Linked DNA regions of Homo sapiens. The protein of the gene in region 1 purifies or fractionates together with the protein of each later gene. This does not show direct contact. Each region holds a gene or a part of one and is shown in the gene's direction. Other genes may lie near its edges.

Region 1 (4,096 bases):
CAGTTTCAGGGTGGAGGATTTGAACACCCCAAACCTTTACTGCAGAGGGCCTCAGCAGGATCACCTGGCATTGGTGGAAACCACACACAAGGTGCCTGGTGACCAAGGCTGGTCAGAAAAGAGAGACCACAGGGGACGCAGCAGGGCCAGATGCACCTCTGCCAAAGAAAGAAAGAGGCGTCCCAAAGGGCCAGTGCATGGAGCTGCGCGGAGGGGAGGAGCGGAGTTCCAATTTGGGCTCCAGAGAGAGAAGGTAAAGGATGAGGACCCGCCGTGAAGGAGGGAGGAGACCACAGGAAGGCCGTGGGGGCTGTGGGCTGAAGGGGGTTTTAGGTGAGAATCGGGGACAGCCCCGGTGGTCGGCGTGGCTGGAGGGTGTGCTTAGAGCGGCCTCCGGAGGGAGAGGTCGTGTGAGCCGGGTGGGCTCCCCCCTCATGGTTCCACTGTCCCATGGGAGCCAGCCGCGGAAAGGAAATGCGCGTTTGAGGAGAAAAGAGAAAATCGCCATCCTGGAAAGTGAGAAGATGGGCTTGTGGGCGGGAGGAGGCACTGGTGGGCGGGCCAGGGAGAGATTCGTGGTCACCGATCAAAGTCAGCCTGGGTCAGCCTGCTGGTGGGCCTTTCCCCCGCCCTCGGTGCCCCTTCGACCTGTCCCTTGGGGGTCGGCCGGGGAATGAGTGCGTGGCCAGGAGAGCGGGTCCCGCTTTCGAGCCCGCGGGGTCTTCTGCAGCTGGAGGGTGCCGTGGGCTTGGGGGCCCCCAGATGCCCCGGGTCTTCCCCCAGATCCTAGGGGAGCAACCGCGAGAGAAGTGGGCGCTCCGGGCTCCAGGTGTCCGCAGGGCGGGGCCTCCGAGGGGGCGGGGATTTGGGGGCGGTTCCTCTGCGCGGGGCGGGGCCTCATAGGGGCGGGGCTTCGAGGAGGTGAGGCGGGGCCTGGGGTGGGGCTTCGCGGAGGACCCTGGGAACGGGCGGGGGCGGGGACTAAAACGGGGCGGGGATTCGCGGGGGTGGGGCGGGTCCTGGGGCGGGGCTTCGCGAAGGAGGCTTGGAGGACGAGGAGGGGACAGGGCCTGGGGAGGGGCTTCGCGGAGCAGGCCTGGGAGACGAGGAGGAAACAGGGACTGGGGCGGGGCTTCGCGGGGCGGGGCCTCCGGGGGGGCGGGGCCTGGGCGCGGCCCGGGCTCGGCAGCTCTCGGGGAAGCTCTGCTCTGGCTCCGGCAGGCACAGGCGGCTCGGGAGGTGCGCGCCGGCTCCGCCCCCGGGCCCCGCCCGTCCGCCGCGCGCCCGCGCCTCCCAATTCCCAGAGCCGGGGCTGGGGCTCTAGGCTGCCGCGGCGGCTCTAGGCTGGGCTGCTGGGCGCGAGGCCAGGGCGGGCCGGGAGAGGCTGCGCCGGCGGCGGATCGCGCAGAGGGCGGTGGCCTGGGCTGGCCGAACCATGGCGGCCCCGGAGCCGGCGCCGAGGCGGGCCCGGGAACGGGAGCGGGAGCGGGAGGACGAGAGCGAGGACGAGAGCGACATCCTGGAGGAAAGCCCGTGTGGTCGCTGGCAAAAGCGACGGGAGCAGGTGGGCGCGGGGGTTGGGGCACGGGGTGACACCGCCCTCCCAGAGCGGGAGGGGCCTGGAGGCTGCGCGGGGCGTGGGGGCGCTGGGAGAGCGCGGCGGCTGGAAACCTCTCCGCGGCCCCTCGCGGCCCGCGAATCAGCCACCCCTGGACCCCTTTGGCCTGGCGCTCGCCCTGGGACTCCCTGAGGGCCAGTCTCCTCCCAGGACCACCTCCCCATGCCTCTGGACTCAGCCGCTAGCTTCCTGGGGATCCCCCTCGACCCCCTGAAACCTGCTCCAAATCCCCTTAGCCCAGCCCTTGGATAGGAGCCCTTGGCTCCTGGGGGCAGCTACCCTCCAAGCCCCACCTTCCCGCAGAGTGGCTCAGGGCCTGCAGCCCACGCTTGGGCCCACTGGAAAGGTGTGGACAGGGACCAAATCCTCACCCACAACCCTGACACACACCAGGGCACACATAACCCTTTATTCACCCCCAGGTAAACCAAGGGAACATGCCAGGGCTTCAGAGCACCTTCCTAGCCATGGACACGGAGGAGGGGGTAGAGGTGGTGTGGAACGAGCTCCACTTCGGAGACAGGAAGGCCTTCGCGGCGCACGAGGTGAGACCGCTGCCCCCTCCTCATCCTGCTTGGGTGACCACCTGCTGACCACCCAGCGACCACCCTCCCTCCCCAGGAGAAGATCCAGACCGTGTTCGAGCAGCTGGTGCTGGTGGACCACCCGAACATCGTGAAGTTGCACAAGTACTGGCTGGATACCTCTGAGGCCTGCGCGAGGGTGAGCACGGGCAAGGCCCCGGGCAGGCAGAGACCACAGCTAGGTGGGGCGGGCATGGGGACGAACCCGCAGCTGGTGGAAATCCTGAGCTCGCACCGTGCAGGTCATCTTCATCACAGAGTACGTGTCATCAGGCAGCCTCAAGCAATTCCTCAAAAAGACCAAGAAGAACCACAAGGCCATGAACGCCCGGGTATGGGGAGCGGGCTGGGGCAGCCACGGGGACAGGACGGGGTTGGGGCAGCCTCGGGGACTGGGATGGTGAGGGGGTGCCCGGCGGCCTCGGACAGGGGCTGGGCGAGGATGCGGGGCGGGCTCCGCAGGCCCAGCCGCCTCTCCTGCGCCCACCCGACCGACGGAGTCGTGCGTCCGCCGCCAGGCCTGGAAGCGCTGGTGCACGCAGATCCTGTCTGCGCTCAGGTGAGGGCCTGGGCTGGCCTGGGCGCGGCGCCACCGAGCCCCCATCTCTCCAGAGCCTCCTGACCGGCTCCTCCTACTCTCCCCTCCCCAACGTCTGCAGCTTCCTGCACGCCTGCAGCCCCCCAATCATCCACGGGAACCTGACCAGCGACACCATCTTCATTCAGCACAACGGCCTCATCAAGATCGGCTCCGGTGCTGGCGGGGCAGGGCTGGGTGGGGGAACGGGGCAGGGGAAGGTGCCTGGAGCCAAGGGCAGAGGAGTTCTGATGCCCCAGCAGCTAACTCCACTCTTTCTCCCGCCCCTTGGCAGTGTGGCACCGAATCTTCTCCAATGGTAAGTGCGGACTTTGGGGGGACGGGGTCCTGGAGAGGTCCCCGCCCGCTCAGCTCTGCGCCCTCCCACAGCACTTCCAGATGATCTCCGAAGCCCCATCCGCGCTGAGCGAGAGGAACTTCGGAACCTGCACTTCTTCCCCCCAGAGTATGGAGGTGAGTGGTGCTGGGTCCGGGTGCCCCGTGCCTACCCTGCGCTTCTCTCCTACGTGTCCTGTGCTCTCTTCTGTTCAGAGGTGGCCGATGGGACCGCTGTGGACATCTTCTCCTTTGGGATGTGTGCGCTGGAGGTACTGCCCCCGCCCTCCACCTTGTGCTCTGCCCTCCTCCTAACTGTGCCCTGCCTGGCTCACCTGTGTGGTCCCTTCCCCATGCCTGACCTGGCTCTGTGCCCCAGATGGCTGTACTGGAAATCCAGACCAATGGGGACACCCGGGTCACAGAGGAGGCCATTGCTCGCGCCAGGCACTCGCTGAGTGACCCCAACATGCGGGTAAGCAGCTTGCCCTGCCCCTCCCCAGCTGGCTCACCGTGCTCAGCTAGGGCTAGCAAGGTGCTCCAGGCAGACCTGGGAGAACATCACAGTTTGTGCAGTTGAGGGGTATACCAGCTGACTGCACCCCTCCCAAAGAGGACCTCAGTGGGAGCACATACTGGTTCCAGGCCTGAAGGCCCTAAGGGGTCAGCACATTCTAAGGACAAGAAGGCAAGAGAGACCCTCCCTCTGTGGCTGCCATCACCATGCCCGTTTTATAAAGAAACCAAGGTTCAGAGGAGATGAGTCCTTTGCCCAAGGCTTTAGAGTGAGTGGTGGAGCCAACATCTGCACCTGGGTCTGCTTCACTCCAAGTCCTTGACTTTAAGCTTCCAGGAGGTGATGAGGCTCCAGCTTGTGGGGGGACATGGTGGGTGCCAAGCAGGCAAAAAGAGGTATGGGATGGAAGCTGCATCCACAGCCCCCTCTGCTCGGAGTCTAGACTTAACTCCATGGCCTCAGGA
Region 2 (3,500 bases), on another chromosome or scaffold:
CTTACGGATGGGACCTTCTCCATCAGCATCCCTGGGTCAGGTCCTGGGGTTTTGCTGAATGGAATTTTCTTTCCATGTCTCATCATCACCACTTGCTGAACCCTGGATGACAGAAGACACACACTCACTTAAATCTTTAGACTCTGCCTGGGTCACAGACCTCTTTCATTAATTCACATCATTTTGTTTCAAAATGGGTGCCTGGCAGCAAATCCCCCGCTCTAGTTTTTGGTGAGTGAAAGTGACTGACTGCTCATCCTATTTCAACAAATATGTACTGAGCACTAGCTGTATACCAGACACTGCACCACTGAACTTTGTTAAAGAAATTCAGACCTTTGGAGCACTAGCTTTTGAGCGAGGATAGATTTTCACCTGGACTCAGAGAAACAAGGGCTGCTGTTTATGGAGCTCGGGTTCTTGGGCTCCAGAAATCCCCATTTCCCTCCTTCCCCTGGTGGCCTGCAGGGCATGCTGTGGCCTGCTTAGCGCTGCCCCTGCGATCGAGGAGGATTTCGTTTCTTTAAATGCCCCAAGAGCCAGGTTCTCTGAAGAAACTGGACATTTGCAGCCCAGGGGGCCCTCTTGCAATGTAAATAGTGATCTCATTTATTCAAGTCATGGATTGGGACACTCCTGGGTGGGTTTTCTCATAGAGAGGCCAGTCTGCTGTGTTGGGAAGTAAGAACCTTGTCACTAGGTTGGGACACTCTGGGGAGTGTGGCCTTTACTCCTCTCAGGACCCCTAAGTCCAGCCCTGCATTGTTCCTGAGGTGGATCCTGCTGGGGGCAGGTGTCCCCTCCTTGGGAGGTGGGTTTTCCTGGAGGCCAGTCCCTGGCACTGAATCCTCATCATACCTGTATGTTGTCCCTTAGGTATCCCCTGTTTCCTACCTGAGGGTTTCCATGAGCCCTGTCCTGCACACCCAGAACAAGGAGGCCCTGGTGGCCGTGCCTTTGGGAATGACCGTGACCTTCACTGTCCACTTCCACGACAACTCTGGAGATGTCTTCCATGCTCACAGTTCGGTCCTCAACTTTGCCACTAACAGGTAGGATGTGGGCAAGGGTCATTTCTCCTATGAAGTCCTGTCTGGTACCTGGTAGAGACAACTGGGGATAACACAGAAAGTCTGCTGCTGTTGAAGGAAGATGTGTATTACTTCAGTTTCCAAGAGATGTGGGCATGCTGCACCATGCAGGGCCACGAGGAAACACCACTGCCCTTGGGGGATGTAGACCAGCTCAGAGGAAGACAGACAGGCATCAGCCCCCAAAGGAGGAAACAGGGCATGGGGCAGCTCCAGGGAGTGCTCCCCGAGGCACAGGAAATTGGCCCTTCAGCTTCGGCTGCCCACAGGTCCTGCCACAGTTGTGTTTCCCTGTTGCTGAATGCATTCAAAGACAGGTGTCAGGGGTGTTGCCTTATGGAAAGAACTGGGGTTTAGAGTCAGGCCTGGTTCTAGCCCCAGCTCTGCCCTTCGTGGGCCCTGTGAGTAGGTCACCATCCAAAAATCTGTTTCCACACCTCTCACGTTGGGCAATATGGCCTAGGTTCCAGGGCTTTCCTTCAGCTGAGGGAGTGGTCATGAGGACCGCTGGCAAACCATGGCACTCCGTGTGTGCGCACATAATTGCCATCCATCAGTTTAGGGCATGTCCTGGAGGAAATGGAGCCCAGTTCTCCCAGCCCTTTGGCTGCACTGCAGGTCATTCTGGCCTTCTTGTAGCAGGAGCACCTGATAGAGACCTAGTCAGCACTCAGGGTCAGAAGGTGTGGTGGAGGCAAGGATGCAGCCATGATCCCTAACCCAAACTGTCACCCCACGCAGTCCACACTTCTGCACCAAAGCTGCCATTGCCAACATTGACTGAGCACCTGCCCTGTGGCAGGTGCCTCCCCACTGCTGACCTCATGTAATGCTTATGCCAGGCCTGCGTCACGGTCACGTGATGATCCCCATTTTTCAGAGGAGGAAAGGGGCAGAGGCTGCTTCTGCAGTCAGGTTGCATAGTAAGGGCAGCCTTCCCTTTCTGGCATGTCCAGTTCCCTGGTGGGAAGAGCGTGAGGAAGCACTCTGGATCTCTTTCCCCTCGGGGCCTCAGCTTCCTTTCTGAAATGCAGGAATGATGCTGCTGCCACTGTTTGGCTGCGAGCTGCATGTGCTTTCTGGCATGACAAGTGAGGAGGTCGAGCCTGTGCCACCTGCCTGCAGTGGTCCCTCATCTGGGGCCACTGCTTGGTAACCTCGAGTTGGGGCCACACCTGGGACCTCAGTCAGTTGAATGCTTTGCTCAGCAGAGGACATGGATTACGTTTCTCCCTTTGGGAGTTGGAAGCTTCTTTCCCGAGACTGAGAGCCCTCCTTTCTCTCCTGTGCCTAGAGACGACTTTGTGCAGATCGGGAAGGGCCCCACCAACAACACCTGCGTTGTCCGCACAGTCAGCGTGGGCCTGACACTGCTCCGTGTGTGGGACGCAGAGCACCCGGGCCTCTCGGACTTCATGCCCCTGCCTGTCCTACAGGCCATCTCCCCAGAGCTGTCTGGGGCCATGGTGGTGGGGGACGTGCTCTGTCTGGCCACTGTTCTGACCAGCCTGGAAGGTAAGATAGATCCTGAGCAAGGGAACCTGTGGAGTCACGGACGCTTGCAAAGCTGGGTGGGGGCTACCTGGGCAGGGGCTCGGCACCAGTCACGGGGGCCTACAGGCAGACCTGCAGGATACTCAGGAGCAGTGCTCCAAAACTGCTGCCCGGAGACCAGATCCAGCCTGTGCCTGTTTTCTGCAAGTAAATTTTTGTTGGCACTCAGCTGTGCCATGCATTATGTATGGTCAGTGGCTGTTGTCACCCTACCACTGCCAGATTGTGTGGTCATAGCAGAGATTGTATGGGCTGCATAGCCCAAATGCTTATGTCCGACCTTCACAGAAAGCATTTGCCAGCCCTTTTCTGGAACAGCTCTGCCAAGTCGGTGGGGGGGTCCCCTGCCCCTGTGGGGCATCCTGTCTCTGCATAGTCTCACTCAGTTCCTCTAGCCAGGAGACACACGGATCTCTGCTGCTGCTGAGGAACTGAATTCACCATTTTAGTGAATTCTGTGGGAAGTGGCCGCCATAGTGGACAGCACAGGCTGGGAGACTTAAGCAAAGAAGGACACTGGGCTAAATCAGGGGCTTCCAAATTTCAGCCATGCCCAGGTGACCTGTAGTACATCTGTGGAACACGTGTACAATTATTTACTTAGCTTTTATTTTCAAATTGTCTCCACCTTTTTTTTTAACCTTACTAAATTCATTTTAAAAGGAGATGAAATACTACCTTTAAGGAAAAACAAATATAATTTGCCATAAATAGATTATGGTTGAGTCCTTTAATTGTACTTATTATATAATGTGATTGGCTTTTAACTCAGATGTGTATGTGGTGAAAGCTCTGAGCCTCACACCTGCTGTCTGTTGCTAAAAAGGAATTGATAAGGCAACGAAGGGATGGGGA
Region 3 (3,500 bases), on another chromosome or scaffold:
ATTAGCTAGCTGGCATTTATAAGCCAGGGCCCCTTTAAAATATCTGATTAGGTTTTTAGCACAACTCAGATTAATGTAGGCCTTAAATAGACAGTAGGGGCCGGGCGTGGTGGCTCACACCTGTAATCCCAGCACTTTGGGAGGCCAGTGCTGGGATAACTTGAGCTCAGGAGTTCGAGACCAGCCTGGGCAACAAAGTGAGACCCTCTCTCTACAGAAAAAAAAAAGAAAAATTAGCCAGGCGTGGTGGCGCATGCCTGTAGTCCCAACTACTTGGGAGGCTGAGGTGGGAGGATGGATTGAGCCTAGGAGGCAGAGGTTGCAGGGAGCCGAGATTGTGTCACTGCACTCCAGCCTGGGTGACAGAACGAGACTCCGCCTCAAAAAAAAAAAAAAAAAAAAGACTGTAGATTTGGGTCATTACAGTTTCTCAAGAGTTTCTTTTTTCATCCAGTGCCAGCTTCCTTTCTCTTCCCACTTACTTTTTTTATTTTCATAATGTTTTATTTAACCTAACATATAATCAAAAATATTGTTTGAACATATCAAAAACCTAAAAATTATTTAAAGGATATTACTTTCTGTTTTTTCATACTGAGCCTTCAAAACCCAGAGTGCATTTTATACTCCACTGCATGTCTCAGTTTGGACTAGCCATATTAAAAGTGCCCAAGAGGCACAGGTGGGTACAGAAACAGAAGCCTGTACTGCCTGCAGAACCATGAGCCAGTTAAACCTTTTTATCTTTACAAATTACCCATTCTCAGGTAGTTCTTTGTAGGGTTGCGAGAATGGACTAATGCACCTAATCACTACCTCCTCTGTCTTCCCAGAGGGAACAACTCTTGAATTCTAGCACTCAATATTAGTTTTACCTATTTTTGACTTTATATAAATGGTATTATACAGTATTTTTTCATTCTTCTGTTGATAGACATTTGAGTTATTTCCAGTTTCTGGCTATTAGGAATAATTATCCTATGAACATTCTTTATGTCTATATGTACACATTTGTGTAGGGTATATACCTAGAAATAGGATAGCATAGGGCATTCATATGTTCAGTTTAGCAGGTAATGGCAGTTTTCCAAAGTGGTTGTATCAGTTTACATTCCAGAGGGCAGTGTATGAGAGTTCCTGTTAATCCACATCCTCCATAACACTTGGCCTTTTAATTTTGATTTTCAATTTTAGCCACTTAGGTGATATATAGTGGTATAACAAAATGATTTTAGTATACATTACCTAGTACATAAAATGTTTATTTAAAAATAGTAAAAAAAAAAAAAAAAGTAATCCTATTGGAAAATAGATTAGAGAGATGAACAGTTTACAGAAAATGATTCCCAAGTATTTGAAAAGATACTCAGCTTTACTCAGTGGAAATGCAGACTAAAGTTAGACTGGGATATTATTTACTATTTATCAAATTTACAAAAATGCAGACTTGGACAATGTACTCTAGTGAGTTCCTGGACAAATCAGCATCCTTACACATTGCTGGTAGAACTATATGGTGTATGTTTCTCCATTCTTTTATTTTCAGTCATTTTGTATCTTATCTTTTAGATATGTCTTTTGTAAGCAGCATATAGTTAGTTGTAAGCAGCATATAGCTGTTAGTTTTTATTTTCAGTCTGACAATTTTTGACCTTTAATTGGAGAACTTAACCCCTATGTAATTCCTATCATTTTAGATTTAGTCTGACTAGTAGTGCTTTGTATTTGTCACTCTGGTTTTAAGTTCTTTTTTCTTTTTTTTTTGGCCGCCCTTTAGATTATGTTTTGAATAATTTAATATTTTCCCATCTATATGTGTTACATAGAATTATGTTCCTTTTTGGTTTAGTAGGTTACTCTAGAGATTACAATGTCCTTTAATTTAGCAAGGTCTAATATAAATTGATACTTTTATCCTTCTCTGATAGTGAAGGATCAGCATGTATCTGTTATTGTTGTTATTAGGTTGGTGCAAAAGTAATTGTGGTTTTGGCCATAATGCATGTTTTAATTCTATATATATATTAAGCCACACAAGCCAGTATTTTTATTGCAGCTTATGCAATAAATATTCATACAGATTTACCAGCGTAACTGTCCTTTTATTGCTCTTTATTTCTTCCTCCATCCCCAGACATAAATCTAGAATCATTCTCCTGCCTAAAGAATATCCTTAAGTTTACTTTCTCTAACATGGGTTTTCTGCTGATGTCAGATTGTCTCAGGTTTTATTCTCTGGAAATATCTTTATTTCACCTTTATTTTTCAAGGATATTTACACTGGCATAGAGTTTTATTTAGGACTTATTTTCATTGCGTACTTAGAAAACATCTCTGTCTTTTGGCTTTCATTGCTTCTGTTGAGAAGTCAACTTACAGTCTAATAGTTGTTCTTTTGGAGGTAATCTATAGGACCTTTTTCTGACTCTCATATGCCTAGATGTGTGTGGGGGCAGGGATGGGGGCAGTGGGAGTTGTATTTGTGTTTTGAATTGGTGACTTGGTTTCTTATTTTTGGAAAATTTCCAGGCATTGTCTTCTCAGATACTGCTTCTCTTCCTTTTTTTTTTTTTTAAATAACTGTTCTTATGGGATTCCCAATAACATACACATATACCTTCTCAAAATGTTTCCTAAGTCTTCATTTTAATGCAGAGTTACTGCATTTTTATATTTTACTGAATTTTTTATAGTAGCTTTCCCTTCCTAGAATTGGCTATTTTTAGATAAGTGATGGTATATACTGAATAATATCTTTGTAACTCCAAAAAATTATCTTATTATATGCTAAGGAGCACTGAGCAATGCATAGCCCTCTTACTTTGCCATAACATTTCTGAAGGCTTTCTTTTCTGGATTTACCTATCCTTCTCATCAAATAATCTAATTACTGTTATCCAAACTCCTTAGCCAGCTTTCATAACATATCTTGATGTCAGAGATGTTGTTTTCATAACGCATCTTGATGTCAGAAGTATTCTCCAGGAAAATTAGTCTGTTCAGTAGGCATGAACTGGAAATGTATCAGTACGTGCATAAAGTAGTGAGGAATACATAGATCTATGTGGACAATATAATTTTGTCTTTTTTTTTCTTTGTTTAGCAAAATGGTACAGGCTTTTTTCTTCTTATATTTAACCTACTTCTCTTTAAATGCTGACATTAGTTTCCAGATTATCTTCTCAAATGTTTCCATGTTTAATGGATGGTATGAACTAGGAATACAAACTTTTCAGTGACTAGCGGTAAGATTTCAGAAGTTAATTCTGTATTTAAGAATTTTGTAATTATGTCACTTGGAACTGGCCTTTAGAAAAAGTGTGAATTTCTGACTGGTTGTGAGAAAAATTAGTCAAGAAAATAATCAGTAATTTTTTTGTTAACGTAGACCTTCAATATTGATGTACGGCAGTTACATTGGGCAGAATATATAGAGAACTACTGCTTGGGAACTAAGAAGTACGTATTGAATGAAGAAATGTCTGGCCTCCCTGCAGCCA
Region 4 (3,500 bases), on another chromosome or scaffold:
ATTTCTTGAGTAATTGAATGAATAAATGAATGAAATCCACTTTTTTTTTTGTCCACAGCATACTTCCCTTACCTTCTTCTTTGCTCCCATTCATCCTTTAAGTCTCAGATTAAATGTTATGTTCCTGGAGAGGCTTCTTTCTGATGTTCTAATCTAAAGAGATCCTTTTGTTATAATCTCTCAATTTCCTTTTCTTTCATGGTGCTTATCAGAACTCACACTTTCATATTATTTGTGTGATTGTTTAGTGTCTGCTTTCCCCACTCTAGTCTAAGCTCCATAAGAACAAGGACTATGTGTGTTTTGTTTTTTATTGTAACTCTAACACTGAGCACAGTACTAGGCACAGAATTGACACATGCATATCTTGTCTTGTTGAATGAATGAATGAATATAAAAATTTGAATAATACATGAAAAGCCATGAAGCTCTTGCATCCTGTCCCCTTAGATCATCTCCCTCCCCTTTTCAGCTCCATGAGAGCAGTCTGATGAAGAGGAATGCTAGCTCAGGAAAATCTTTGTCTTCCAAGAACTTCCTTTTGGTCTTGGGGGAGGAAGGTGTTTTTTTATACCACCATGAGGCTATTTTTCCTTCCCTTCTATTAGTGGTGACATTGTGGAAGTATCTGTAAAATAATTCCAGATTGTTCCTGATCCATAAATAGTGAGAAACATGGGATGTAACTTGCTACTATGCTCTTTATTTTTTTCTTTTAACCAGGTACACATCCAAGCCTAAAGAAAAATTAGTCTATGCCATTTTTCTTAAATGGCCCACATCAGGACAGCTGTTCCTTGGCCATCCCAAAGCTATTCTGGGGGCAACAGAGGTAAGAGGGAATTTTACCTTATTCCTTTAAATTGCTGATTAGAACATCTTGATGCAAACATTAACTTTTAAGGGGAGCCTTATAACTGTTTCACTTATACTTCATAAAAGGAATTGTAAATGAGCTCCAGCCAAGCATTGTGGCTCACACTGTAATTCCAGCACTTTGGGAGGCTAAGGCAGGAGGATGTCTTGAGGCCAGAAGTTTGAGACTAGCCTGGGCAACATAGCAAGACCCCTGTCTACAAAAATTTTTTTTAAAGTTAGCTGAGCATGGTGGCACGCACCTGTAGTCCTAGTTACTCAGGAGGCTGAGGCAGGAGGATTGCTTGAGCCCAGTAGGTCAAGACTACAGTAAGCTATGACTGCACCACTTCAGCCTGTCTCTGAAAAAATAAAATAAAATATAATAAAATAAAATGAATTTCACCAATGACAGTGTTTGGTCAAAATCTTTGAAACTTTTTGTTTCCCAGAAAACTAAGCTGATAAAACAGCTGCAGTATCTCTATGCATATCACTGTAAAATAGACATTATTCTTCACAGTCATTTTACGTTGTTCAAGTTCACTGCATGCATCCAAAATGATTCTTCTCATAAAACTAGAATTCGGATGCTTTCCCTGACACCCCACCCCAGAACATATCTGAATACAAGATGTCATGACTCTACTATTTTATGTTTATAAAACATTTTGGAGAAAGTTAGAGATTAATCTAACTGTTGAAACCACCAGATCTGGCATTGAGTTCATTCTGATATATTTTATAACTTATTTTTTTAAATAAATTATCCCTTTGGAGGTGAACTGTCCATATGGGGGTTCTCCTTGCATCACTTTTCTGCATTTCATTTCTAATACATGTGGTTGATGAGGCAGAAAGAAGATGAGTTCAAATCTAATGTTTAATTACAGCTTAGTAGCCCAGGTATGATACTGATTATGTTTTTATTTTATCTATGTTCTTTTTGGTGCCAATTAACATTATTATTTAAAAGCTCATGGGCTTTGTTTTCATATTGATCCACCTGAGAAGCAAAGTTTTTGGTTCAAAATAACCCTAGAATATGTAGGGAACTTATTTGAATTTGCTTAGTATAGTAAGACTAAGAATATAAAACAATTACAGTAATAATTGATCAAATTTATGTATTATTGATTAGTGGAGGTTATTAGAAAATCTGGGGGAGGAACGCTGAGTAGATACTTGGGCAGACTCTGGTTTCAGAGCCACTTTCTGCTCCTGATCCTCTCTTTAGCTTTTTCTCCACTCTGAGACTCCATTCAGTCTTGAAAATTCTCCTTCCCCAACCCCTGCACACTTCTATTTCCCTCTTGAGAGTAAAATAGAAGCAAGAATATAGAGGCAAGATACATACACTCAATTGGATGAAGAGTGATTGTGAATCACTAAATAAAGGTAAAAATGAACCTCTTGTCTACAATTTTGTTTGAACTACTAATCACTCCTTCCCAATAGAAAGTGGGTGAGATAAAGAGATAAATTTGGAGACATTTGCATGTATGTTTTTAATTTCAGGTGAAACTACTGGGCCATGGACAGCCACTTAACTGGATTTCTTTGGAGCAAAATGGCATTATGGTAGAACTGCCACAGCTAACCATTCATCAGATGCCGTGTAAATGGGGCTGGGCTCTAGCCCTGACTAATGTGATCTAAAGTGCAGCAGAGTGGCTGATGCTGCAAGTTATGTCTAAGGCTAGGAACTATCAGGTGTCTATAATTGTAGCACATGGAGAAAGCAAATGTAAAACTGGATAAGAAAATTATTTTGGCAGTTCAGCCCTTTCCCTTTTTCCCACTAAATTTTTTCTTAAATTACCCATGTAACCATTTTAACTCTCCAGTGCACTTTGCCATTAAAGTCTCTTCACATTGATTTGTTTCCATGTGTGACTCAGAGGTGAGAATTTTTTCACATTATAGTAGCAAGGAATTGGTGGTATTATGGACCGAACTGAAAATTTTATGTTGAAGCCATATCCCCCATGATTATATAGTTATGCATCACTTAATATGGGGATATTTTCTGGGAAATGCATTGCTAGTCAATTTTTTTTTGTGCCAACATCATAGAGTGTATTTACAAAATCCTAGATGGCATAGCCTACTACACACCTAATGTGTATGGTATAGACTGTTGCTCCTAGGCTACAGACATATACAGCATGTTACTGAATACTGTAGGCAATAGTAACAGTGGTATTTGTATATCGAAACATATGGAAACATAGAGAAGGTACAGTAAAAATACTGTAAAATAAATGGTGCACCTGTATAGGGCACTTACCACGAATGGAGCTTACAGGACTGGAAGTTGCTCTGGGTGAGTCAGTGAGTGAATGTGAAGGCCTAGGACATTATTGAACACTGCCAGACTTTATAAATACTGTATGCTTAGGCTACACTACATTTATAAAAAAAAGTTTTTCTTTCTTCAATTATAAATTAACATAAGTGTACTGTAACTTTACAAACGTTTTAATTTTTAAAACCTTTTTGGCTCTTTTGTAATAACACTTAGCTTAAAACATAAACTCATTGTGCAAATGTACAAAAATATTTTCTTTCTTCATATTCTTATTCTATAAGCTTTTTTCTATTTTTAAAATTTTTAACTTTTTACTTTTACAGAAACACACACA

What was found. The genes of interacting proteins can lie anywhere in the genome.
Region 2: the proteins of NRBP2 (region 1) and NUP210 purify together in Homo sapiens (affinity purification with mass spectrometry; one large-scale study listed by BioGRID and IntAct). This does not show direct contact.
Region 3: the proteins of NRBP2 (region 1) and FAR1 purify together in Homo sapiens (affinity purification with mass spectrometry; one large-scale study listed by BioGRID and IntAct). This does not show direct contact.
Region 4: the proteins of NRBP2 (region 1) and FUCA2 purify together in Homo sapiens (affinity purification with mass spectrometry; one large-scale study listed by BioGRID and IntAct). This does not show direct contact.

What each region holds. Positions count from the first base shown.
Region 1 is NC_000008.11:143,838,174-143,842,269, reverse strand, and holds the start of NRBP2 (nuclear receptor-binding protein 2), read left to right. Parts: upstream 1-1,296; 5' UTR 1,297-1,435; coding exon 1,436-1,564; intron 1,565-2,040; coding exon 2,041-2,163; intron 2,164-2,239; coding exon 2,240-2,341; intron 2,342-2,444; coding exon 2,445-2,534; intron 2,535-2,720; coding exon 2,721-2,761; intron 2,762-2,861; coding exon 2,862-2,956; intron 2,957-3,074; coding exon 3,075-3,098; intron 3,099-3,169; coding exon 3,170-3,253; intron 3,254-3,331; coding exon 3,332-3,387; intron 3,388-3,494; coding exon 3,495-3,590; intron 3,591-4,096. UniProt on the Homo sapiens protein: May regulate apoptosis of neural progenitor cells during their differentiation.
Region 2 is NC_000003.12:13,326,323-13,329,822, reverse strand, and holds part of NUP210 (nuclear pore membrane glycoprotein 210 precursor), read left to right. Parts: intron 1-876; coding exon 877-1,052; intron 1,053-2,385; coding exon 2,386-2,606; intron 2,607-3,500. UniProt on the Homo sapiens protein: Nucleoporin essential for nuclear pore assembly and fusion, nuclear pore spacing, as well as structural integrity.
Region 3 is NC_000011.10:13,724,168-13,727,667, forward strand, and holds part of FAR1 (fatty acyl-CoA reductase 1), read left to right. Parts: intron 1-3,388; coding exon 3,389-3,500. UniProt on the Homo sapiens protein: Catalyzes the reduction of saturated and unsaturated C16 or C18 fatty acyl-CoA to fatty alcohols. It plays an essential role in the production of ether lipids/plasmalogens which synthesis requires fatty alcohols.
Region 4 is NC_000006.12:143,494,721-143,498,220, reverse strand, and holds the end of FUCA2 (plasma alpha-L-fucosidase precursor), read left to right. Parts: intron 1-723; coding exon 724-832; intron 833-2,373; coding exon 2,374-2,514; 3' UTR 2,515-3,409; downstream 3,410-3,500. UniProt on the Homo sapiens protein: Alpha-L-fucosidase is responsible for hydrolyzing the alpha-1,6-linked fucose joined to the reducing-end N-acetylglucosamine of the carbohydrate moieties of glycoproteins.